7 linked regions of the Homo sapiens genome follow. The protein of the gene in region 2 purifies or fractionates together with the protein of the main gene of each other region. This does not show direct contact. Each region holds a gene or a part of one and is shown on either strand. Other genes may lie near its edges.

The links.
Region 1: the proteins of CACNG6 (region 2) and SLC38A3 purify together in Homo sapiens (affinity purification with mass spectrometry; one large-scale study listed by BioGRID and IntAct). This does not show direct contact.
Region 3: the proteins of CACNG6 (region 2) and CDS1 purify together in Homo sapiens (affinity purification with mass spectrometry; one large-scale study listed by BioGRID and IntAct). This does not show direct contact.
Region 4: the proteins of CACNG6 (region 2) and RNF121 purify together in Homo sapiens (affinity purification with mass spectrometry; one large-scale study listed by BioGRID and IntAct). This does not show direct contact.
Region 5: the proteins of CACNG6 (region 2) and LMBRD2 purify together in Homo sapiens (affinity purification with mass spectrometry; one large-scale study listed by BioGRID and IntAct). This does not show direct contact.
Region 6: the proteins of CACNG6 (region 2) and PTPRA purify together in Homo sapiens (affinity purification with mass spectrometry; one large-scale study listed by BioGRID and IntAct). This does not show direct contact.
Region 7: the proteins of CACNG6 (region 2) and SLC25A14 purify together in Homo sapiens (affinity purification with mass spectrometry; one large-scale study listed by BioGRID and IntAct). This does not show direct contact.

The regions. Positions count from the first base shown.
Region 1 is NC_000003.12:50,215,271-50,218,628, forward strand, and holds part of SLC38A3 (sodium-coupled neutral amino acid transporter 3), read left to right. Parts: intron 1-115; coding exon 116-189; intron 190-273; coding exon 274-366; intron 367-469; coding exon 470-551; intron 552-1,967; coding exon 1,968-2,050; intron 2,051-2,144; coding exon 2,145-2,203; intron 2,204-2,405; coding exon 2,406-2,570; intron 2,571-2,646; coding exon 2,647-2,726; intron 2,727-2,999; coding exon 3,000-3,100; exon of another isoform or gene 3,101-3,218; intron 3,219-3,322; coding exon 3,323-3,358. UniProt on the Homo sapiens protein: Symporter that cotransports specific neutral amino acids and sodium ions, coupled to an H(+) antiporter activity.
Region 2 is NC_000019.10:53,990,216-53,994,436, forward strand, and holds the start of CACNG6 (voltage-dependent calcium channel gamma-6 subunit), read left to right. Parts: upstream 1-1,421; 5' UTR 1,422-2,662; coding exon 2,663-2,993; intron 2,994-4,221. UniProt on the Homo sapiens protein: Regulates the activity of L-type calcium channels that contain CACNA1C as pore-forming subunit.
Region 3 is NC_000004.12:84,649,127-84,651,834, forward strand, and holds the end of CDS1 (phosphatidate cytidylyltransferase 1), read left to right. Parts: 3' UTR 1-2,208; downstream 2,209-2,708. UniProt on the Homo sapiens protein: Catalyzes the conversion of phosphatidic acid (PA) to CDP-diacylglycerol (CDP-DAG), an essential intermediate in the synthesis of phosphatidylglycerol, cardiolipin and phosphatidylinositol.
Region 4 is NC_000011.10:71,995,046-71,998,097, forward strand, and holds the end of RNF121 (E3 ubiquitin ligase RNF121), read left to right. Parts: intron 1-394; coding exon of another isoform or gene 395-404; coding exon 405-506; intron 507-1,149; coding exon 1,150-1,270; 3' UTR 1,271-2,552; downstream 2,553-3,052. UniProt on the Homo sapiens protein: E3 ubiquitin ligase which accepts ubiquitin and transfers it to substrates thereby promoting their degradation by the endoplasmic reticulum-associated degradation (ERAD) pathway which is a pathway involved in ubiquitin-dependent degradation of misfolded endoplasmic reticulum proteins.
Region 5 is NC_000005.10:36,138,388-36,141,887, reverse strand, and holds part of LMBRD2 (G-protein coupled receptor-associated protein LMBRD2), read left to right. Parts: intron 1-685; coding exon 686-781; intron 782-3,500. UniProt on the Homo sapiens protein: Recruited to ligand-activated beta-2 adrenergic receptor/ADRB2, it negatively regulates the adrenergic receptor signaling pathway. May also regulate other G-protein coupled receptors including type-1 angiotensin II receptor/AGTR1.
Region 6 is NC_000020.11:3,019,981-3,023,480, forward strand, and holds part of PTPRA (receptor-type tyrosine-protein phosphatase alpha isoform 1 precursor), read left to right. Parts: intron 1-1,328; coding exon 1,329-1,448; intron 1,449-2,073; coding exon 2,074-2,240; intron 2,241-2,708; coding exon 2,709-2,844; intron 2,845-3,500. UniProt on the Homo sapiens protein: Tyrosine protein phosphatase which is involved in integrin-mediated focal adhesion formation.
Region 7 is NC_000023.11:130,356,919-130,360,418, forward strand, and holds part of SLC25A14 (brain mitochondrial carrier protein 1 isoform 1 precursor), read left to right. Parts: intron 1-1,721; coding exon 1,722-1,817; intron 1,818-2,128; coding exon of another isoform or gene 2,129-2,257; exon of another isoform or gene 2,258-2,774; intron 2,775-3,500. UniProt on the Homo sapiens protein: Transports inorganic anions (sulfate, sulfite, thiosulfate and phosphate) and, to a lesser extent, a variety of dicarboxylates (e.g. malonate, malate and citramalate) and, even more so, aspartate and glutamate and tricarboxylates.

The sequences.
Region 1 (3,358 bases), on a different chromosome or scaffold from region 2:
AGACACCCAGGTCACAGACCCTCCACCCCCAGGCCTCCCAGAGCCCCTCACCCTCTGCCAGCCACGGTAGCCCCCCAGTGGCCTCTTTTTCTTCCATCTTCCCATGTGTCCCCAGGTTCCTGTTGACAGCTGTCGCCTTGCTCTCCAGCTACTCCATCCACCTGCTACTCAAGTCCTCAGGGGTCGTGGGTGAGCCTCACACCAGCCTGGAATGGGCGGGAGCTGGTGGGTAAACTGGGACAAGCTCCTGACTTCTTGACCCTGCTCCTGCAGGCATCCGTGCCTATGAGCAGCTGGGCTACCGTGCCTTTGGGACCCCAGGAAAGCTGGCAGCAGCCCTGGCCATCACGCTCCAGAACATCGGAGGTAAGAGCAGTGGGCAGGGGCAGGCAGTAGGGAGGTGGACAGCCCTGAAAGCTGGCTGGTTGGGCTGACCTCAGCGCCTGCCTGCCCGCCCCTCTCCCCACAGCCATGTCCAGCTACCTGTACATCATCAAGTCTGAGCTGCCACTTGTCATACAGACCTTCCTGAACCTGGAGGAGAAAACCTCGTGAGCCCTGGCGTGGGGAGGGGAGGGGAGGGGTGCGGTGCAGTGAGGAGGGGTGGGGTGGGGTGGGGCTGGGTGAGGGTGGGGGGGCCCAGGCTGGGCTGGTGGGAGAGACAAGACAAAGCAGACAAGAAGCTGGTGGAGTGGGGAGAGTTGCCCGCAGAGCCAGCATTCAGTTCACACTCACTTGGGAAGCACCTTGGAGACCCCCCTCCAGAAGGGGCTTGTGGGGCTAGGGGCAGGGTGCAGCTGAGGAAGCTGGGCCTCTCCTCACCCCGGACCCAGCCTGTGAGCGTGGGAGGCTCAGGCTTAGCTCTAAGCGCCTGCTATTCCTGACCATGGGGTTGCCCCCCCCAACCAAGATATTAAGCCCAGGTGTCCCAGTTGCCTATCACTTTAGCCAGCATTGACTGGGCATCAAACGTGTTTTGTGGGACAGAGGGGACACAGCCAGGCCCTGCTCTTGACAGCCCAGCCCGAGCAAGCAGAGGGGCTGGGAGGCTGAGAGTAGCTCCGGCAAGAGGGAGAGCCAGGATTCTGCCGCTGGGGCCCTGGGCCTTTCCCAAGGAGTTGGCCTCAGGGCTTGCCTTTGAGGATGGTCCTGGCCCTTATCCCCTTGTTTCTCTGTGCCCCGTATCCATTCCTGGTGGGTAGAGGAGGGGGCCGGATGAGGCAAGGCCCAGATGCCAGAAGGAACCGCAAGGAGCACAGGTTATTGCAAGTGCCAGAAACCCCCGTGGAAAATACCACCTCCCTCTAGAACCAGGTCCCTCTTCCTCCTCCCACCCACCTCCATCCAAAGGCTGGGCCCAGACCTGTGTATCCTGAGAAAAGCAACAGCAGTGCCTACAATAGAGAGGGTCCTGAGCATGAGCTGTGTGCCAGGCTGGAACCTTAGTTCTCATGTCACCCTGAAGGACAGTACTGAAGGCACGCCCTTTGTTTTGTTTTGTTTTGTTTTGTTTTGTTTGTGAGACGGAGTCTCGCTCAGTCGCCCAGGCTGGAGTACAGTGGCACAATCTTGGCTCACTGCAACCTCTGCCTCCCGGGTTCTTGTGATTCTCCTGCCTCAGTCTCCTGAGTAGCTGAGATTATAGGCGTGTGCCACCATGCCCGGCTAATTTTTTTGTATTTTTAGTAGAGATGGGGTTTCACCATGTTGGTCAGGCTGGTCTCGAACTCCTGACCTGATGATCCACCCACCTCAGCCTCCCAAAGTGCTGGGATTACAGGCGTGAACCACCGCGCCCAGCTGGGCATGCCCATTTTGCAGATGGGGAAAGTGAGACTCAGAGCTGTGGACAAACATTCTTCAGATGTCACTCAGTGGCACCATTGGTAACTCCAGCAGAGGGAGGCAGGGGCCCCATCCCAGGCTGAATGGATTCTGACCCTGGCTCCCGACTCATGTCCCTGCAGGGACTGGTACATGAACGGGAACTACCTGGTAATCCTTGTCTCTGTCACCATCATTCTGCCCCTGGCACTGATGCGGCAGCTTGGTGAGTGTGGAAGGGTCAGAGCCTTGGAGGGGATGTTGGAGGCATACACCATGGGAGGGGCCCCAGGTCTCAGAGTGCTCCCTCCACTTTGCAGGCTACCTGGGCTACTCCAGCGGCTTCTCTCTTAGCTGCATGGTGTTCTTCCTAATTGCAGTGAGTCACCCTCCATGTTGGCTGAGAAAGCGGGCAGCGGGTCTCCTGGGGGAGTTCCCTGTCATCAGGAGGGGGCAGGTGTCTCTGGGAAGCCTGGGCCAGAAGGCAGCTCCACCAGTCCTGATCTAGATGTGGCTTCATGGTGACTTCCCAGGCAGTCCAGCCTGGGAGTCTCTGACACCCTCATCCCTCCCCACTCCAGGTCATCTACAAAAAGTTCCACGTGCCCTGCCCACTGCCCCCCAACTTCAACAACACCACAGGCAACTTCAGCCACGTGGAGATCGTGAAGGAGAAGGTGCAGCTGCAGGTCGAGCCTGAGGCTTCAGCCTTCTGCACTCCCAGCTACTTCACGCTCAACTCACAGGTTCTGACAGGTCAGGGCAAGGCGGGGGCCCAATGAGAGTGGCAGACTGCCTTGACACAGCCCCGTGTTTCCCCAGACAGCATACACCATCCCCATCATGGCCTTCGCCTTCGTCTGCCACCCCGAGGTGCTGCCCATCTATACTGAGCTCAAGGAGTAGGTGTCTGTGGCTGGGAGTGGGGGTGGGGATGCCCTGAGCTGGTTTGGGGAGAATGGATGTGGTCCTGAATGTGGAGAGGGGAGTGACAGGAGCCAAGTCACTTTATCTGAGATGTCCTTGGCAGCCATGAGAGGTGATTATGAGCAAGAAGGAGACTCCCTCAGATGCTGAATGGTGAAAGTATGGTGCCAGAGAGAGCTTGGGGCACATGGGGGTCTCCCAATGTTACCCAGCTTGTCACCAACACCCACCCCCCCACTTCCCCACAGCCCCTCCAAGAAGAAGATGCAGCACATCTCCAACCTGTCCATCGCTGTCATGTACATCATGTACTTCCTGGCTGCCCTCTTCGGCTACCTCACCTTCTACAGTACGGTGGCACCGGTGGGCAGAGGCCTAGGCTAGGCTGGGGGGAAGGGGCTGGTTGTGGCCATGGTGCCCTCCATACCGAGGCGTGTGGTGCCTGGCTGTGCCTTGCCGCTGTGGAGGTGAGTCTGCATGCCAATCCCCACAGTGTTGGGGTCCCCTAGGCAGCTCAGATCCCACCTCCTTCCTGGGGCCACCTACTGACCACCCTCCCTGCCTGCCACAGACGGGGTGGAGTCGGAGCTGCTGCACACCTACAGCA
Region 2 (4,221 bases):
GTGCTGCTTTCATTCTGTGCCCCTGACAGCCGGCCCTGCCCTGAGGCCTGCGCTTTCTCCAACATGGAAATCAGGCCTTCCATCCTTCAAGACCCAGGGTTCTGGCCCCAGTCTCCTCCCTGAGGCCCAGGACTCTGGGTCTGCCAACGCCTTGACCAGGAGTCCAGGCTCCCCGGCCCTCCTCCTCCCTCAGACCCAGGAGTCCAGGCCCAGCCCCTCCTCCCTCAGATCCAGGAGTCCAGGCCCCCTGCCCCCTCCTCCCTCAGACCCAGGAGTCCAGGCCCAGGCCTTCCTCCCTCAGACCCAGGAGCCCAGGCCCCCAGCCCCTCCTCCCTCAGACCCAGGAGCCCAGGCCCCCAGCCCCTCCTCCCTCAGACCCAGGAGCCCAGGCCCCCAGCCCCTCCTCCCTCAGACCCAGGAGTCCAGGCCCCCAGCCCCTCCTCCTTCAGACCCAGGAGTTCAGGCCCCAGTCCCTCCTCCCTCAGACCCAGAAGTCCAGGCCCCCAGCCCCTCCTCCCTCAGACTCAGGAGCCCAGGCCCCCAGCCCCTCCTCCCTCAGACCCAGGAGTCCAGGCCCCAGCCCCTCCTCCCTCAGACCCAGGAGTCCAGACCCCCAGCCCCTCCTCCCTCAGACCCAGGAGCCCAGGCCCCCAACCCCTCCTCCCTCAGACCCAGGAGTCCAGGCCCCCAGCCCCTCCTCCCTCAGACCCAGGAGTCCAGGCCCCCAGCCCCTCCTCCTTCAGACCCAGGAGTTCAGGCCCCAGTCCCTCCTCCCTCAGACCCAGAAGTCCAGGCCCCAGTCCCTCCTCCCTCAGACTCAGGAGCCCAGGCCCAGCCCCTCCTCCCTCAGACCCAGGAGTCCAGACCCCAGCCCCTCCTCCCTCAGACCCAGGAGTTCAGGCCCCCAGCCCCTCCTCCCTCAGACTCAGGAGCCCAGGACCTAGGAGACCAGGTTCCTCTCCTCTCAGATCCAAGATTCTGGGTACCCAGGCCTTCTTCCTCTACCACTCAGAAGTGGGGTACCGAGGCTTCTTCTCCCTTAGGGACCCAAGACTCCTGGCCTCAGGCCCTCCTCCCTGAGACCCGGGGCCCTGCCTCCCGCCCCTCCTCCCTGGTAACCCCAGTCAGACTTGCTGCCCCGCCCGTCTCCTGCTGCCCGGGAGACTGCGGAGCTGGGACTCTCGGCGCCGCTCTTGCCCCTTAGTGAAATGAAAGTCCCATCAGGCTCGGCCCCTTCCTCCCCGGGCGGCCTCCCTCCCCCCTTCCTCGTCCCCTTAAAACACCCGGGATCCCTATGGCAACAGGCGCCGGGCGACAGGTGCGGGTGTTATTTACGGGTCAAGCCCGAAATAGCCCCGAGGGTGGAGGGTGGAGGGTGGGGGGTGGGCGGGTGGGGACGAGGCCGGGCGCGGGCGGAGGCCAGGCCGGTGGCGGTGGCGGGCACAGCCGGACGCTTCGGAGGCAGCGCGGAGCTGGGGTCGGCGCGGGGCCGAGGCAGGAGAGCGAGAGGGGCCCCTGCTCGGGAGTCGGGGGTGGGAGCCCCGAGGGGGGGCCCTGGCCTGGGGCTGAGCCTGGCGCGAACCCGACCGGGAAGGCCCTGGGAGCCCGGGGGAGGGAGACGGACTGATCCCGAAGGGGCGCAGCGTCTCTTGCGGGTCGCGGTTGGCCTTTGAACCCTGGGGGGACTCAGTCCTGGTTTTCCGAGCCGCAGTGCGGACCACAGCCCCATAGTGTGAGCCCCAGGAGGGCCCCCGGTCCCATCTGCCCCAGCCCTCGGGGAGGCCCCGTAGCCTCCCGCCTCTGGACTCCACTCTGTCTTCCGGCCACCGGCCCCTTTTCCAGGCTCAGTAGAGACCTCGGATCTTTTCTGAATGGCAGGGGAGACCCCTATCCCCTTTTCCTGAATTCCAGCGAGGCCCAGTCCTCTTCTGAGCCCCAGCCAGGGCTCTGTTCTTCTCCTTCTGTGGATGCCGGGGTCCTACTGCCTCTCTTGAGACCCGGATTGAATTCCGACCTCCCCTTGGGAGCTTCCCGGGACCCCAGGTCTTCCTTTTCCGAATCCCAGAGGGTCCCCAAGTCCTCTGTTCTCAAACTCTGAGCCCAAGGGAACCCCGGCCACATCTCCTCCAAACACACACAGGACCTCAGGTCCCTTCCTGGGTACCCCAAACTCTTAGCCCTAGTGGGGTGCTCAGATCTCTCAGGAAAACCAGTTTCCCTTTTGTTAACCCCCCAGCGGGGACCCCAAAGCAGCCCCTTGGAGCTGCAGGGAGCTTCAGCGGGCACCAGTTCTCATTCCTCTGGAGCTCTTGGGGGGACTCCCTCCTGGGAAGCCGAATTCTATCTCTAAACCTCAGGGTGGGGGCCTTGTTTTTCCTCTGGGCCCCGTCTTCTTTGCCAAGTTCTTGAGGGCAACCTAGACCCTCCTCTGAACCCCAGAGGCTTCCCCAGCCCTGGGGATCATTTTTCTCTTCTGAACCCCAGAAGCAATCTCGACTTTCGCATTTGAGATTCCAGACAGGACTCGGCTCTCCCTCTTTCATACCCAGGGGAAACTGAGTCCCTCACCCCCTTCAAGACCCCAGGCCGCTCCTCGCTCCCGCCCCTCGAGGCCCTTCGCCGGCTCTGCCTCCTCCCCCTTCCCGACCCCACCGGCCATAAGATGATGTGGTCCAACTTCTTCCTGCAAGAGGAGAACCGGCGGCGGGGGGCCGCGGGCCGGCGGCGGGCGCACGGGCAGGGCAGGTCGGGGCTGACGCCCGAGCGCGAGGGGAAGGTGAAGCTGGCGCTGCTGCTGGCCGCCGTGGGCGCCACGCTGGCGGTGCTGTCCGTGGGCACCGAGTTCTGGGTGGAGCTCAACACCTACAAGGCCAACGGCAGCGCCGTGTGCGAAGCGGCCCACCTGGGGCTGTGGAAGGCGTGCACCAAGCGGCTGTGGCAGGCGGACGTGCCCGTGGACAGGGACACCTGCGGCCCCGCGGAGCTGCCCGGAGGTGAGCAGCCGCCGCCCCGAGCGCAGGGCTTGCGTCCCACGGACAGGGAGGGAGAGGGGCCCGTGTCCGAGGAGAAAACCCGCCCCAGGGACAAAAGCCTGAGCCCGGAGGAGACAGCTTGCCTCGCAGTAAGCGCCAGTGCCCACTTCGTCCTCTGCTCTCAGAAACTGCTGAGAGATAGAGGGATCCCCCAGATATGGCCCAGGTCCCTCACGGGCCTACCGCCAGAGAACCTGTGCCTTAGAGCTTGCTTTCCTGCTACAGACTGTACCCCAAGACCAGAATGTGCCTACAGGGAGTCTGTGCCCCCAGGCCATCCTGTACCCCCAGACCAGGCTGTGACCTGAGACCCCCTCAGACGAGTCTGTACCCCTATTCTGCACCTCTAAAGAGAGCTTGTGCCCCCGCCTACAGCCTGTGCCCCAAGACCATCCTGTACCCCGACTATCCTGTACCCCCAGATGAGCCTGTGTCCCCAGCTACAGTTTCCACCCCCAGACTAACATGCACCCCTAGACCAGTCTATACCCCCAGACCAGCCTGCATCCTTACACCAGCCTGTGCCCTCAGATCAGCCTGCACCTCCACACCAGGCTATGGTCCCAGATGATTCTATGACCCCCAAAGTCCCTGCCCCCACACAGCCAATGTTCCCAGGCATCGCTGTGTCCCCCCAGACCAGCCTACAGCTCTAGAGAGAGCCTGTGTCACTAGAAAAATCTTGCCTGTGTCCCCAGACCCAGCCTGTGATTCCAGACACAGCTGGTGTCCTCAGATAGCCTGTGCCCACCCCAGACAGCCTGCACCCTCTGGAAGTGCCTGTGCCCTGGAGACAGCCCGTGCCCACTCTGCATGTGCCCACAGACAGCCTGTGCCCATGGAGAGACAGCCTGGGTTCCTGGTGTCAGCTTCCTCTTCCCAGCCTGGAGACAGCTTGCGCTCCCATCCTGTGAGCCCTGGGGAGACAGACGCCCACCCCAAAGCAGGATCTATGCCTGTTCCCCACCTACTGCTTCCACCAAACCAAGCTCTCACCAGACGCCTCCCAACACCCGAGGGCAGACCTTGTTCCTTCCCTGCAATGTTCTTCACTTCCTGTCCTCTCGCCTCCAAATGCCCAGACTGGACATTTCAGCGTTTCTCATTTTCTCCGAGAGACATTCCCATACTCCCTCCTTTCCCAAATCATGGCTGTTTTATCCCTGGGCATGGCAGAGAGCTGTTCCAT
Region 3 (2,708 bases), on a different chromosome or scaffold from region 2:
TTCTCCTGCACTTCCTCCTCATGTAGTCTGGAGTACTTTCTAAAGGGCTTAGTTGGATTTAAAAAAAAAAAAAAAAGATTGTCTACTTTTCAAAGAAGTAACCATTTGCCAGGGGAAAACATTCTGCTTTTAGGTAGTTTCAAAATTCAGGGGAGGGAGCCTGAAATTTTTGCCATGATTGGTTTGTTAGAAAGAGCAGGCATCAGACTACTTCTGATAAAATTGTTTGGAAGGTCACGACCTCGCAAAAACTTTTCAAGAGCAACAAGGAAGAATTCTGCTGTGAAGAACACAGTGTACGGATCCTCCGCATATTATCTCAACAGAGGACAGTAGCTCAGGAGGCAGCTTCAAACGGTGACCTGTGGCCTGGGCCATCTCTTCGTCATGTGCTTCACTTTTCCCTGTTTCCCTGTGAACTGGCTTCCATGGTTCTGTAGGGTAGTGAGTCGGGGTTGTGGCTGCAGCAGAGCAGGAGATGCTTGCCCGAGTGGGAGCAACCCACCCCCGTGTCCCCAATGCCTCACTCCTGGCTTCTAGTGCAGCCCTTTGTAGACTCACCTCGCAAGAAGGAAGATCTGCCTGGAGACCTGATCCCAGTCCAGCTTTTTGACCATAGGTCATCTTTGTCCCCTTGCTCCTTTGCATCATGTCATAAAATTTGAGGATATCAGCTGATTATTTTTTCTTCCAAGAATGAAAATCAAGCAGAATTGATTCCTACACGAAAAAAAAGCACACGAATGCCAAACCTTTCCTTTGGTGGACTGGACACTAACCAGATGAGAGTAAATTTCTTATCCGTGGACGTATGTAAGCTACTGCTGCTGTGTGCTCTCCACAGCCATATTTATTGTATTAAACAATCAGCACTAAACCTTCAAAAATTGCCCAGTGTTCCTAGTTAAATGTTCAGAGGGGAGAAATAGATATATTTTAAATAATGTTTTGCTAATGAAAAGAGTAAATATTTTTGTTTAAATCAGCAAAAACTTTCCATTATTTTATATTTCCGTCTACTATACCTAAAACAAAAGATTGCCGTTATACCTGGGTTCCACTGATGCAGTCAGCCAGCACCTCCTCACATGCACACATGATTAGACATAGGTGCACTCGGTACCAAGAGTCCATTTTATGGTCCAGCATATACTCCATTGATTCATCATCACTGCATGTGTTCAGCCAGTGTATCTCACACTATCCATACAAATCTAAAATTGATACTGGAAATGTTATTATAGGAGGCAGTGATCGCATTTAAAATCAGGCCACCTACAAGTTTAATTTTCAACATCTCATGTTTTTATTTGTCCCATTACAGCCTCAAATGTTGGTCATAAAAAAAATTTAGGCTACCAAAGTTTAAAGAATAAAATGAAAATTTTATAAGAACTTACATTAAAAACTCAGTAGTTTGCATGAGTAAGAACTCCTTGAGATACACAGATCCCCCCACATTTGTATTTAAAATAATTGGTGAGGCATTGAAATCCAGAATTATAAGAAAGCATTACTGAATATGTGTGTTATAAAATCAATATTATTATAAACAAAATAGGAAGCTAGAAATATTTGGGATCACAGTAATAGCTTTTCTCAAATATACTTTTAGAATTGAATGTACATTATCCTATATGTAAAAAAGCAAATTATTAATTTTAATGGAGCTCTCGATTGACCTTTTTAGCATACTTTTATAGCATGTATATTAAAATAGAATATATTTTAGCAAAAGATTGCCATAAAACCCTGACTTGGCTCATTTTGATATTTGCACTGTGAAGAGGGCTTAAATTCCAATGTAGCAATGTGGTGGCAGACAAATGAAAAACTAGGAAGTTCTTTCACAGTAATGCCTAGTTGTTCCAAATTTGCTATATTTGGAGGTGCTCTACTGGTACTTCCTGCTTGACTCTCTGACCTGTGGGATGCACATTCTTCCTCAGCGCTTTTTCCTTGTTGTGGTGACGTACATTCACTATCTGAGAGTGAAAGACCACACACACCCCTCTTTTTAAAATTATTGTATCTCTTCCTTTTCACTTTGGTTTGAACAAAGATAGTGTCACCTTGTTCCGTGAAAAAGAAAAAGCATAAACAGTGTATATTTAGGGTATATGGGTGATAGCTTATGATGTGTGTCAATCAGTTCTCTGAATCTTTTACTGAAACTGAGACAGGAAAATAAAACTGAAACAAATCATATTTTGACTTTGTTGTGCCATTTTCTCATTGGAGAAGAAATATTCAACCAGTGTTTACAAAATAATGATGGGTATATGTAAGTATTATATCGTGTCTATTCCATCACCAGCACCTACAGTGAAATCTTCAGGGCTGGGGATAAAATAAGTTCTGGTGATTACCAAACATCTGTATTTGTTGAGAGGCAATGTCCTCTTAATACAAAGAGTACTGAACTTTTATGGTATTAGCACAGTTTGTAATTACCTGTGTATTTTTGTGAATCTCTGAATGATGTGTGCCCCTTACTAGAGCTTTAAGCTATGCAGAGGCCAGATGAAGTCTGTTTGGGTTGGCCGCTGCATACCCAGTGTCTGGCATGATGCCTGCTCTCTGTAGGCCCTCCAGCTTCTGAAATGCACAAGCTTGGAGCTTGGTCTAAAGACCCAGCTGTACACATTGCCTCTTGTCTCTAGGGCATCTCCTGTCCCCTTCCCCAGACCTTTTATTTTGCAGAGTTC
Region 4 (3,052 bases), on a different chromosome or scaffold from region 2:
GCTGGGTCTGAGAGGAACCTGAGGCTGCAGCTAGTGAGGCTGTGCTAGCAGACCTGAGATCTGACCAGTCACAGGGGAAGAGGACCCTCTAATGGGATCCCTCAGTTTAGCATCATCCTCTGTTCTGAATAACACTTGTAATATTTATCATGTATTTACCCAGCTCCCATTCTCTGCCTATGTTGGGAAAGCCATGTATTGTCTCCATTTTGCCCCATAACAGTCTTGTGAGATAGGGATCATTATCCTTACTTCACATGTGAGGAAACAGGTTCAGACACAGGGACTTGCCCAACATTACAGAGCTGATAAAGAGCGAAGGCAGGATTTGAACCTTTCAAAGACTGTCTGGGGCTGGAGTGCCGCCCTGGCTCTCACCATTTCCCTTGACCAGCGGTGCTCAGCTTCCACGAGTTCTGCATCCGTGGCTGGTGCATCGTGGGAAAGAAGCAAACGTGTCCCTACTGCAAAGAGAAGGTAGACCTCAAGAGGATGTTCAGCAATCCGTATCCTTTATTGGGGTCGTTGTTGGGAGTGGGCTGTGGGAAGAAAGTACTGGCCAGTGTGACCTGCATTTGGGTCCTCCTGGGGCCCTCACTTCTGCCCCCAACCAGAACATGTCAAACCATGGTGGGAAGCTGAGCTGCTAGTCCTGCCCCCATGATACAACCCCAGTTTCCCTATTCTAGGATTATTGCCTATTCTCAGCCTCCTTGCAGCCATTGTCACGGATAGATAGACTTGTGTCAGCCTCAGGCTGTGTTATCTTACACTGGCAGTTCCTTCTTAGAGAAGGTGTTACAGGAGGCCCTCCCTGCATGTTAGTCATGGGGAACTAGGATTTATCTCTATACCTCTCTCAGGGCTGCCCTGCCTCCAGTACCAGTCCCCTCTATCTGCCTCCCACCTTCTCTGCATTCAGCTCTTTACCCCAACAGACAGGCTGTGAGGAGGAAGAGGAGGGGGAGGGCAAAGTTGGGAGGGCTGCCTGAGTAGGAAGTGAGGCTGGGCCCTTCCAGAAAGCAGCCTCCATTCCTCTAGGCTGTGGAGCAGCTGGAAAGTGGGGCAGACCCAGGGAGCCCCACCACCCATGCTAGATCACTCCTGGCAGCTCTTGCACAGAGTCTCTTTTCTTTAACACACTGACAGCTGGGAGAGGCCTCACGTCATGTATGGGCAACTGCTGGACTGGCTTCGATACTTGGTAGCCTGGCAGCCTGTCATCATTGGTGTAGTCCAAGGCATCAACTACATCCTGGGCCTGGAATAGTGATGAAGAGCATCAGTGGAAAACCCACCCCACACGCCATGGACCTCAGGGCACTCTCCTCCCTGCCCACAAAGACCTCCTGGGTGGGAAAGACTCAAAGGGGTGCTTGGGCCACTCAGGACCCCTCTGGCTGTGTCGGACTGGGGAGGGATATGATGGAGAGCCAGCCAGTGGGGCTGTCAGCAGTGGGGGGCTTTTTAAAAGAAAACTATTTTGATGAATATATTTAAAAAACCTTTTTTTATTGTGGAGCATAGGAATTGCCCCCCTCCAGGCTTCACCCTCCCTGCCTAAGCAGGGTGGGGGCAGAGCCATGACATTTTTGGTTTAAAGGAGCCTTCTCATCTCTGGCCGAGAACACTGCTGGGCTCCCAGGTAGCTGAAGGCCTCAGCCCACCCACTCCCTTCTTCCCTGTGTGGGGCTCAAGCCTGGTGCACTTAGTATAGAAGAGCTAACGTACTCAGGCTTGTGCCACGGGTGAGCACTGAGGCCCCAGGTGTCCTCCCTCCCCCACTGTCTGGGACACAGGACAGGTGTTGCGTCTGACTCTGTCTCCCCCTGTCCAAGAGCTATAGGCTGGTTGAGGCAAGTGGAACCTTATCAGTGACTTGGCCAACAAGGGAAGCCTTGGGGCCTCAGAATTCATTGAAGATTTGTTTTGGGACAACTGGAAGAATCAGCACCATGGATACTCGCCCGTGGGCAGGGCTGTGGTCAGCCAAGAATAGAGGTCATATAGTTGGGCCATGGGGCAATTGTTGGCAGCCATGACTGACGGCCCCTTGTGCAAGCTCATTCTTCAGTGGATCCTTCAGTGGAGTGGTGACACGTGCCAGCGGTCACTCTGCCACATCACTTCCTTCTTGAAAGCCTAAGAGTGCGTATGCGTGTGTGTGTGTGTGTGTGTGTGTACGTGAGGCAGAAGAATATGACAGATGTCAGCTTCTCCCTGTGTCAGATGATATGTCCTTGAAGCTGGCAGGGGATTCCCAGTCCAGGGAATATCCCTACATGATTTTTGTCATTCATGGGTCCTCCCTGGGCCTGACAACGGGAGTGGTGGGTGGGTGAGAACAGGTTCTGAGAGGGGGCTTCTAGGAAGGCCCCAGCCCTAGTCCTAGGCGACTTGAATAAAGTGGGAGGTCAAACATGGGCCTTCGGCATTGGGTTTCTAGGGAATATGGCTCAGTAGGGCCTGCCCCTTCAAGGGCAGCAAGAACGAAGCAGGATGTTGTCACTCCCGTCTGAATAAAGCTCCATGAGCTGGGTTGGAAAGCTGAACATTTATCTTGCTTTCTTCTTCCCACCTCTTTCCCTGGGGTCCCCAGGGGTGTCTTGCCTTTGTTAACCCCCATCGGAGACCTGAGGGTCTGGGGGTGGTTGGGCCTGCCTTTCTGCTGTTCCCAGCTGTTCCCCTGCTGACATCCCTAGGAGTGGTGGAATGCCAGGCTCCTGTCCTGTGGCCTGGGGGCCTGGGGCATCATTGGGCCTGCCTTCAGACTGAGGTTGCTCTATGTTCTCACTGCCTGAGGACAGTGTCCCGCCACCACCTGCCTTCCTGAGGACCACACTCAGGCTCGGCTTCTCTTCCCCAGCTGTGGCTTCCCATGGTACCCTGCTGCTTATGCCACCTGTGGGGCTGTTCCCCTCCTCAGAGAGGGGAATGGGGCTGGTCAGAGGACCTAGGGATCACCCTTCCTTTTACTTTTTCCCCCCACCCCCCTGTCAGGCTCAGGTGAGAAGCCGAGGCCAGGCTGTCCAAAGCTCTTTTCATGTGTAAC
Region 5 (3,500 bases), on a different chromosome or scaffold from region 2:
AAATGCAGGTGTTACTTCCATTTGAAGCACTATTAAAAAAACTGGATAAAGATCAGCAGCAGCTACAGATTGTTGCAAGTTCTTGGGATATCCTTCTAGCTTAGGAATATGGCTCCATGGCAGAATTTATGATCAGAGACTCATCATGTCTTCAAAAATTTAAACAGAATTATGTATAATTGCTAGCATGCATCTCCATAGAAGCTATGTTATAGTGAGTGATTTAATTAGCATTACAATTTTCAGGAATTAATTACCTAATGTTTTCCCCTCCCAACCCCTATAACCTGAAAAAAAAAAAACCCAACCTATAAATGGATTGTGTATTTTAAAGGTAATCATTAGAAATTTTATTTCATAATACATTTGCTTTTAATGATTGTTGCACTTTTAGTCTATTAGTTGAACATTAAGTTTTCTTTTTACCCAATGACTAAAAATACACTGAAAGTTGAAAACTTAAATGACATTTTCAGAACAATCTATTTTGTTGCTTTTGTGTGTTTTTTTAGTTTGGCAGTCAGCTTTGAATTTTAAAATTTCTTTGAAATTTTATGGGTTATTGATTATTAGAGTCAGTAATTTAAAATCTGAATGTAAATTAACTTGGCCACATGCAAATTAATTGTATAATTCATTTAAGTAGTCATTTATGATTAGTTGGCTTTAACTTTTTATTCAACAGCCAGCATCCTTGTTTCAAGCCATGGAGTTACATTCCTGATGGAATCATGCCAATTTTCTGGAGGGTAGTGTATTGGACGTCACAATTTTTAACATGGTAAGTTACAGTAAATGATAAAATTTTTAAAATTTTGGCTAAAGGAATAAAATGTTTTTCAATCAATATAGTTTGGAATTTATTTATGTGTCATATGCATTCTGAATCTTTCTACCCATTATTTTTATCTTTCTGCTGTGCTCCAAACTCATAGTTATCCACTGTCTACTAAGCATCTCTTAGATCTGCAAACAACTGCACTCTAAAACTGGAGGCACTGAACATTGCAAGAGAAAAATTACATAGCAGAGTAGTGCTTTTGTAAAGTCATGTCTATTAAATTCAACTGGGCTCTCAACATTGCCAGACTTTCCTTCTTTGTTTTTTTTAGTTTGCTTTCTTTCCATTTTCTACAAGAAATATTTCCATTCACTTCAAACTTCCGTCCTCTTTATGGCTTTCTCTCTTGTGCTCCCTAACAACAACAACAAAATCATCTTTACTCTTAGCCTCTTAGCAGATGACTACTTTCCATCCAGCAGTTAAAACAGGAGTCATCAGACGGCAGCTCTTTCAGCTTCTCACCAACAAATCTACATACCTACCCATCTTTTTTTCTTTCCCCTCCAAAGATGGAAGAGTCATGCTTGTTAAAGCCAATACTTCTGTCACAGGATCCTTAGGGGTGTTGTTTTGCCAGCTGGAAACCTCTATGGCCAGTAGCACCTTTGCCTGAATTTTACTCAGGCCCGCTGGGCTTATTCCGCTTACTCAGCCTGGCAGGTTGCACTTAGCTCATGCTCCTGGCTCTGATCTCATGACTCCCAAGGGCGAGCCAGGCATGGAGTGGTGAGGGGTGTGTGAGTGAGTGAGCATGGGATCCAGCCACTGAGCACAGCCAGACACGCTGGCTGCTGTGGCAGGGTGGGCAGCTCCAGGCATCGGCACAGGTGTCGGCTCTGTGAAAGCCTGTGGCTGGGTCAGATGCACTGCAAGCAGCTTCTGCTGTGGGCACCTGCATCTGGATGAGAGGAATGTGGTGGTACCCAGAAGCTTGGAGATGCCAGAAACCTCAGAGCTCCAAAGAGGGTGTCACAGCCCTAGCTTGGGGAGCCCCTAGATCTGGGCTCCTGGAAGGGCCACAGCTCTTCTCTTCTCGTCACCTGCAACATGGCAAGTGGCAGGGCCATGTTTCAGCCCTGTTTGTGTTTCAGCTCCTTCAGTTCTGCCATTCAGCAGGTCCTGAGTTCTTGTCCTACATCCAGGAAGAATGAGGTATGCAGACAACTGGAGGGTGAGCAAGGTGAAGAGGTGCTTTATTGAGTGATAGTACAACTCTCAGGAGACCCAAAGTGGATAGCTCCTTTCTGCAGGCAGGTTGTCCTGACAAGTATAGCTCTCAGTGGAGAGGAGCCCCAGAGTGGGTAGCTCCTATCTGCAGGCAGGTTATCCCAATCGTCTGTGCAGCCCCCAGTAGAGAGGAGACCTGAAGTAGATAGCTCCTATCTGTAGTCAGGTTGTCCTGTCATCTACCTAAGTGGGGCTGAGTCTGGGGTTTTTATGGGCTTCAGAGAGGAGAAAGTGTGCACTGATTGGGCCATAGGCAGACCTGGATAAAGCACCCTAAGTTCTCACTCTGGTCCACAGAGCTGATGGCCTGGCCTCCATGCTTCAGGCTGTCCCTGGCTTGAAGGTGGGGCTTCACCGGGGACCTGCCCACTTCTGCCCAGGAGCCTATCTGCCTCCTGCCACCATCAATCATGTCATTTATGGCACCCAGGCTGTTCATGCCAACCAGTGCCTGCAGGCCCATGCTGAGCTGCCCTCAGCCCCACTGTCAGCCTCCCTTCTGTGCTTGTTGATGTCCAAAGTCCAGAGTGGGCTGAGGCAGCCGGGGGCTGGTGTCAGTGCTGCCCTGAGCATGTGTGCACACCCAGCTAGGTTACAACAGTGCCTGGATTCAGTCACAACTTTTCTCCAAAATCAGAGCAGGTGTCAGGAGCAGGTACTTCCAAGCCTGTAGGGGTATGGGGGCTTTCTGGGTCCCCGAAAGTGCAGGGATGCCTGGGTCCACAGCCACAGCTGGGCAGCTGCAGCTATGCCCAGAGCAGGGCTCCTGCCCCGCCAACTCGGAAGGGGGTGGGGCTCCCACCTCTTCCCAGCTCCTGCTAGCTCCATGGAGTGCACAGTCCCCGCCAGTCCCCCCACACTGCGGCCAGCAACTTTGCTGGGGGCCACTCCAGACAAGCTGCTGCTGCCATCACTTCTTCCTAAAATATGGATCCATCCCCTTCAGCTCTTGTTACATACTTGTAGCTTTCAATTTCAACGAAGCATGCACATTTCTCTCATCTTTTGAAAAGAAAACAAACAAAAATGAAAGTCTCTCAATTCAGATTCCTTTCCAGCTTCTGCCTTGTTGATCTGATCACAACTAAATTTTTTTAGAAACTTTTTAAAATTGAAGCATAAGTTCGTACCGAAAAATGCATAGATTGTGTTTAGTTTGACTTTTTTCAAAGTGAATACACCCATACACCAGCACTCAGATGATGTTATAGAACATTAGCAATGCCCCCAGAAGCCTCGCTCACGCTTCCCTGTGTAGTCATCCCGCACTCCCCAGAAGTAACCATGATTCTGACTTCCGTCACCATAGATTAGTTTTTGCCTGTTTATGAACTTTATAAGCATAGAATTATACATTGTGAACTTTTTTGCATCTCTCTTTGCTCACATATTTGGGAAATTCATCTATGCTGTGCTGTATGTATCAGTA
Region 6 (3,500 bases), on a different chromosome or scaffold from region 2:
GGAGAATCAGGCAGGGAGGTTGCAGTGAGCCGAGATGGCAGCAGTACCGTCCAGCTTCGGCTCGGCATCGGAGGGAGACCGTGGAAAGAGAGGGAGAGGGAGACCGTGGGGAGAGGGAGAGGGAGAGCTGTTTTGTTTTGTTTTTTGAGACGGAGTCTCGCTCTGTCGCCCAGGCTGAAGGGCAGTGGTGCCATCTCGGCTCACTGCAAGCTCCGCCTCCCGGGTTCACACCATTCTTCTGCCTCAGCCTCCCGAGTACCACCCGCCACCACGCCCAGCTAATTTTTTGTGTTTTTTTTAGTAGAGACGGGGTTTCACTGTGTTAGGCAGGATGGTCTCGATCTCCTGACCTCGTGATCCACCCACCTCGGCCTCCCAAAGTGCTGGGATTATAGGCGTGAGCCACCACGCCCGGCCCACAGAGGAGCTTTTTTCCCCTGGTTTCTCTAGTTCCTTATTTCCCTGGTTTTCTGCCCCACCTGCTGAGGCCTTTGGTATATCCTGGATCAGCAGAGGGAGCTTTATGAACTGAGACCCTGCAAGCCAAAGGGAATTTGAGGCCTTGGCCTAATCCTGGAGGCAGCCTCCTAACTGGGCCTTTTCCTTTTGTGGCTACCAAGTGCATGCCTGGCCTAACCAGCTCTATCACTGGGCCACAGCCAGAGCCAATTCTGGGTCCTGGGGTCGAGCCCCAGCGAGGAATACCTATTTGTTACCGTGTTTCTCAAGGATGGCCCTTGAGTCACCTTGATCCTAGGGTATCGGGTGTCATGATCAACAGCTCCACAGTGGCATGGGAAGACAGTGCTAGGGCTGGGCTTTAGGTTAGTTTCCTCCAACCAAACCTCTTGCTCTTGGAAGCTATCCAAAGCTCAGGCAACAGAAAAAGCTCTAGGCCTCTCATGGCAGGTTTACAGTCTGCATCAGTCTACCCTGGTGGCCCCCTCATAGCAGACTGCTGGTTCGAGGGGTTCAAACAGGCTTTCTCCTAGAGCATGACCTGAAATGTTGTGAAAGTGCAGATTTTGTAGGTAAGATGGCTTCAGATTCGCCCTGAACCAAGGGAGTGTGGGTGGGAAACATTGAGAAGTATGGGGCTAGGGCTGTGTGTAAGTTAGGAGACTGTGCTCAATAGGATGGCGGCTAAGGAACTTGAGAAAAGGGCAAATTTGAATAAGTAAGTGTGCAACTGACTGAGATAGAGAAGAGGTCAAAGGGCCTTCTGGGGGACTTTAATCTGGGCTTTGTGGGCTCTTCCTTCCAGGCCCTTTGCATCTGCCATGGGCAGGAGGTCTAAGGTCAGGGAATGTATGTCTTTTTCTTTCCAGTGCAAGTGCGCCCAGTACTGGCCAGACCAAGGCTGCTGGACCTATGGGAATATTCGGGTGTCTGTAGAGGATGTGACTGTCCTGGTGGACTACACAGTACGGAAGTTCTGCATCCAGCAGGTAGTGTCTCCTCTGTCCTTTCTCAGTTCTTATGTTGGATCTGCTGACCAGTAAGAGGGAACAGGCTGGATCATCCCGCTGTGGTCAGGAGTTGCTGAGTATGCAGTATGTGAATTCTGAAACCAGATATCCGGGCTCAGGGGAACTTGTCTGTCAAAGCTAAAGGAGCAGTATTTTCATGACTGGTGAAAAATTACCTGTTGAGATGAAGTCTGATCATTTAGATATGACCAAGCACTGTGGAAAGGGAGCATGGGGAGGCAGTGCAGTCTCCTAGGTGCTTGACTCACCTTTCTCCTCCTTTCCTACTCCAAAGACTCCTGACATCAAGGATGTGATGGGCCTGCCCCTGGCCCTCCAGGCAACCCTGGAGACCTGAGCAAAGGTCACCTTCAGCCAAGGGGCAGTGTGGTACTGCGAAAAGAGGACTTAGCTGGGAGCACTGCATTTTAGTTCTGACCCTGCCACTGACTAGTTGTGAGACCTTGTGTCTGTGGTTAACTAACTCCCCTGGGTACACTTACTTTTCCATTGTCACTGACAACCACAGCTGTCACCTTCCCTCCCCTGGTACTGCCCACCCTTGGGTATCAGGGCCAACACACAGGATCTCCTCACTTCACAGGTGGGCGACATGACCAACAGAAAGCCACAGCGCCTCATCACTCAGTTCCACTTTACCAGCTGGCCAGACTTTGGGGTGCCTTTTACCCCGATCGGCATGCTCAAGTTCCTCAAGAAGGTGAAGGCCTGTAACCCTCAGTATGCAGGGGCCATCGTGGTCCACTGCAGGTCAGTGTGGCCTGACCCTTGTACCCCCACCCCCACATTTCGCCCCCATGGCCAGAGCAGGGGAACAGCACAAGGGCCCTGGCTGAGGAGGCTGGCACAGAGTAGATGACCTACTGGGGCACCAGCGCAACAGCCAGAGACTCCAAGTTCTAGTGCAGGGTGGAGAATATGACTTGAGGAAGGAGGGTAGGGCAGTCCTCCAAGATTAGGAGTTGGGAGACCCTGCTATGAAGCCAAAAGACTGGGTCAAGTGCTGGCCATGTATTTTTGCAGCCTTCGGACCCTTCTAGCTGGAGGTCAGGATTCAGGACATACTGGAGTTGTTGGCTCCTGGAGAGCCCCAGCTCTACCCCATTCAGAATTAGGATTTAGACCCTGAAGGAAGAGCCCCTGCCTGTGTTGCCCCTCCCTATCTGCTCCCACAAGGCAGGCTGGCCATCCCTATAACCCCCTGCTCTCTGGCTACAGTGCAGGTGTAGGGCGTACAGGTACCTTTGTCGTCATTGATGCCATGCTGGACATGATGCATACAGAACGGAAGGTGGACGTGTATGGCTTTGTGAGCCGGATCCGGGCACAGCGCTGCCAGATGGTGCAAACCGATGTGAGTGATCTGTGGGTCAGGTGAGGGTGGGGGGTTCCAGGACTAAAACATCTGCCCACATTGAGGATTCACTCAGTCTCACAGGTTATTGTAAATGATTACTATAGAGTGTGATTGTGGGGGAAAGAAAGATAGATCACACTGTTACCGTGTCTATGTAGAAAAAGGAAGACACGAGAAACTCCATTTTGTTCTGTACTAAGAAAAATTCTTCTGCCTTGAGATGCTGTTAATCTGTAACCCTAGCCCCAACCCTGTGCTCGCAGAAACATGTGCTGTATTGACTCAAGGTTTAATGGATTTAGGGCTGTGCAGGATGTGCTTTGTTAAAAATGTGTTTGCAGGCAGTATGCTTGGTAAAAGTCATCGCCGTTCTCCAGTCTCAAGCACCCAGGGACACAATGCACTGCGGAAGGCCGCAGGGACCTCTGCCCAAGAAAGCCTGGGTGTTGTCCAAAGTTTCTCCCCACTGAGATAGCCTGAGATATGCCCTCGTGGGAAGGGAAGGGTCTGTGCTGAGGAGGATTAGTGAAAGAGGAAGGCTTCTTTGGAGTTAAGATAAGAGGAAGGCATCTGTCTCCTGCTCGTCCCTGGGAATGGAATGTCTTGGTGTAAAACCCGATCGTACATTCTATTTACTGAGATAGGAGAAAACC
Region 7 (3,500 bases), on a different chromosome or scaffold from region 2:
TAGTGTGTACCCCACTCCCTCAACCCATCTCCAGATGAAGCTGGAGAGATCTATCGAAATCCATATCTGATCTACTATGTACTGCTTCTTTGCCTTTGTGCACGTAACACTTTCTTCCTGAAACGTCTTTCTCATTTTCCTGGTGAATTTGTCCTTCAAGACCAGGCTCATAAACAGGGCCAGGACTAGGGCAAAACAAGTAAGGCAGTCCCCTTTGATGCAGAATGTAAGAAGGTGCCACAAAACTCAGTAATCAATATAAACAACATTTGTATGTAGTATTTTTAAACAATCAAAATTAACGCAAAAAATTCATGATGAACCAAATACCAAAATTTCACATAACTCATCTCATTCACCTTACCCTAATCCTGGCCCTGTTGAGTCCTAGCTTTAGTTAAATTTGATATTTGATTCATTATGGCTTTTTGTGGATTAATTTTGGTTAAAAAATATCATATTGAGACATCATTTATCTTGATTACTGAGTTTTTCTTGCACTCCCTTACATTTCATGCCTAAGAAAAGTACTTCACTTGCCTCACGCTAGCCCCTCTGTTGTCAGGAATCACCTCCTTAAAGAAGTGTTCTACTTACCACAGTGTATTAGTAGTTTTCATTTGTCTTTGTGATAGGTTGTATCTTGATTTAATGGGTTTAGGTTTTTATAATTATAATATTTGAAAACTCTTAGTAGTAACAGTTAACTTTCTGCATAAAAGCATGTTGCCATTACATGACTTACTAAAGACATTTGTTGAAACCTAGAATGGTAGCATGGTGCTTCATAAAAATCAGGCCTACATTTGGGCCGCTAGTATTTAGTGACTGACTACTAGGATTGTATGTGTGCAGAGTCTGTGGGAAATTGTACCAAACCTTTTACATGGCCATTTAATGCTATCTTTCCTTCTTGCAGCTCTCAAAGGCCACTTGGCAGAATATAATATTATGCTTTTTATAAATAGAACTCAACTTAAGGTCTCATAAACATAAAATTATATTTTAAAACACATTTTTCATTTTTATAATTACGTAAGCAATGCATGTTTAATGTAGAAAAATATGGAAGGCAGAAAAAACACAAAAGAGAAAAATGCTTACTTGTAGCCTCACCACTCAGACATAAACCACTGTAAGTATTTAGTTTTATATGTTCACCTCGTCTCTTTGCTGTGCTTATGGATATTTTTAAGTTTACATGTTTTTTATAAAAATGATATAGTACTTCGCAATTTTTTTTCTGGTTAGCAATTAATTTTTGATATCTTTCAGTGTCAGCAAATACCATTGTACAACAAAATTTTATGGCTCCATAGTATTCTATTAAATGAATGTATAATTTCTGTAACCAACCTGTGTAGTTGTTTTTGGATATTAAGTTGTTTCTAATTTTTCACTAAATGAGTCATTTTTTAGTCCTGCTGAGTACTTGATCTTTCTTTTCTCCAAATTTTCTTCTAGCTCCAGAAATAATAGACTTAGTGTGAGGAATGTGAGGCCGATGAAAACCATTTTTATAAAATACACTTTGACACAAATTCTTTTTCTATACAGTTTAACTAATTAACTTTATCATAATAGCAGATATTTTTCTGGGATTCCTGAATACTTCTTTTTAAATTTTAGATGAATTTAAAATGAATTTAAATGAACTTAAAATGAATTTAGCATTTTGGTTCTCTCTGACAAAATAAGATGTTCACCTCTTTTCATTTTAGATTCGAATGCAGGCTCAAGGAAGCTTGTTCCAAGGGAGCATGATTGGAAGCTTTATCGATATATACCAACAAGAAGGCACCAGGGGTCTGTGGAGGGTAAGTACTCTTTTCCTGCTATTATCCTACACTCTCAGTTCCTACAATTTGCAGAGAATTTTTTTTTATATAAAGACATAAAATCGTGAATTATAATCCAAAAACTAAGGTAAGAAACTCCTCATCTCCCTTGAAAGGCCCAAAACTTATCATTGGCCTTTTATTTCTGCATAATGTTTGGGGATTATATAGGTGGGGAAAGTTATTACATTATTTGAGATGGCTGTTTCGATCATATTCACAGTGAATGTAGTTGTTCAGTGTATTTTTTTGCAAGTTCTGTACTAACACGATGATGTATGTCTTTGTAGTGCTTATGTTCAAAAGCTGTTACCGGCTGTGTGCTGTGGCTCATGCCTGTAATCCCAGCACTTTGGGAGGCCAACGCGGGTGGATCACTTGAGGTCAGAAGTTCAAGACCAGCCTGGCCAACCTGGTGAAACCCCATCTCAACTAGAAATACAAAAATTAGCCAGGCATGGTGGTGCATGGCTGTAGTCACAGCTACTCAGGAGGCTGAGGCAGGAGAATTGTTTGAACCCTGGAGGTGGAGGTTGCAGTGAGCCAAGATCATGCCACTGCACTCCAGCCTAGGTGACAGGGCGAGACTCTGTCTCAAAAAAAAAAAAAAAAAAAAAAAGAATAAGAAAAAAAAGCTGTTACCTTAAACAATTTTTTAACCTAAAAAGTCTAACATGTACTGTAAAATATTGAGAAAATATAGAAAAGTAAAAAGAAAAAAAATCCAGTAGTCCCACTGCCTAGAGATAATTTCTGTTAAACTTTTTGTCATATTATCTTTCAGTCTTCTATCTATACTTTGCTTTTCGTCATTGTTGCTCTAACTTTTTAATCCCTAATTATTGTAATATTAATAATATTATTAGTAGAATATACAGAGAGAGTGGAATGGGAAATCTATTAATAGACTTTTAAATAAAAATGAGAGCTTTGGTATTTTTCTTTATAATTTTTCATAACAAAAATTTCAAGCATAAAGAAAAATTGAAAGAATAGAACTATGAAATACATACCTATGAGCTGGATTTGATGGCTGTTAAAGTTTGATCGTATTTGCTTTATCTGTTTACGTGTATACAGACATACACTCTTTTTAGCTAAGCTAAATGAAAGTAGGTTGCAGACATCATGGCACTCAATTAAATTCTTCATTGTGCATCTCCTAAGAATAAGGATAGTCTTCTACATAATAATAATACCATTATCATATCTAAGAAAATGAACAAGTCCCTAATACCTAATATCTAGCCCATATTAGAATTTCCTGTTAATGAGACCAGGCTAATTTATAATTTATTTTCTTCCTTCCTCCTTTTTTTTTTTTCTTTTTTTTTTTGACAGGGTCTCACTTTGTTGCCTAGGCTGGTCTTGATCTTCTGGCTTCAAGTGATCCTCTGGCCTTGGCCTTACAGATGTGAGCCACCATGCCTGGCCAGGCTAGTTTTCTTATAAAGTGTTTCCTCATTGTGTTTGTTTCTCTATCTTTATAGAGAAAATATCTTTATATTTACAGTTTATTTCCTATAAACTGTAAATAGGGTCCATTGGCTTGATTAGATTCATGTTAAACATTTTTGGTAAGGGTGCTTCATAGGTGATGCTGTGTATTTCATACTGCATCACAGCAGGAGGCACATAATATTAGTTTGTCCCATGATTAGT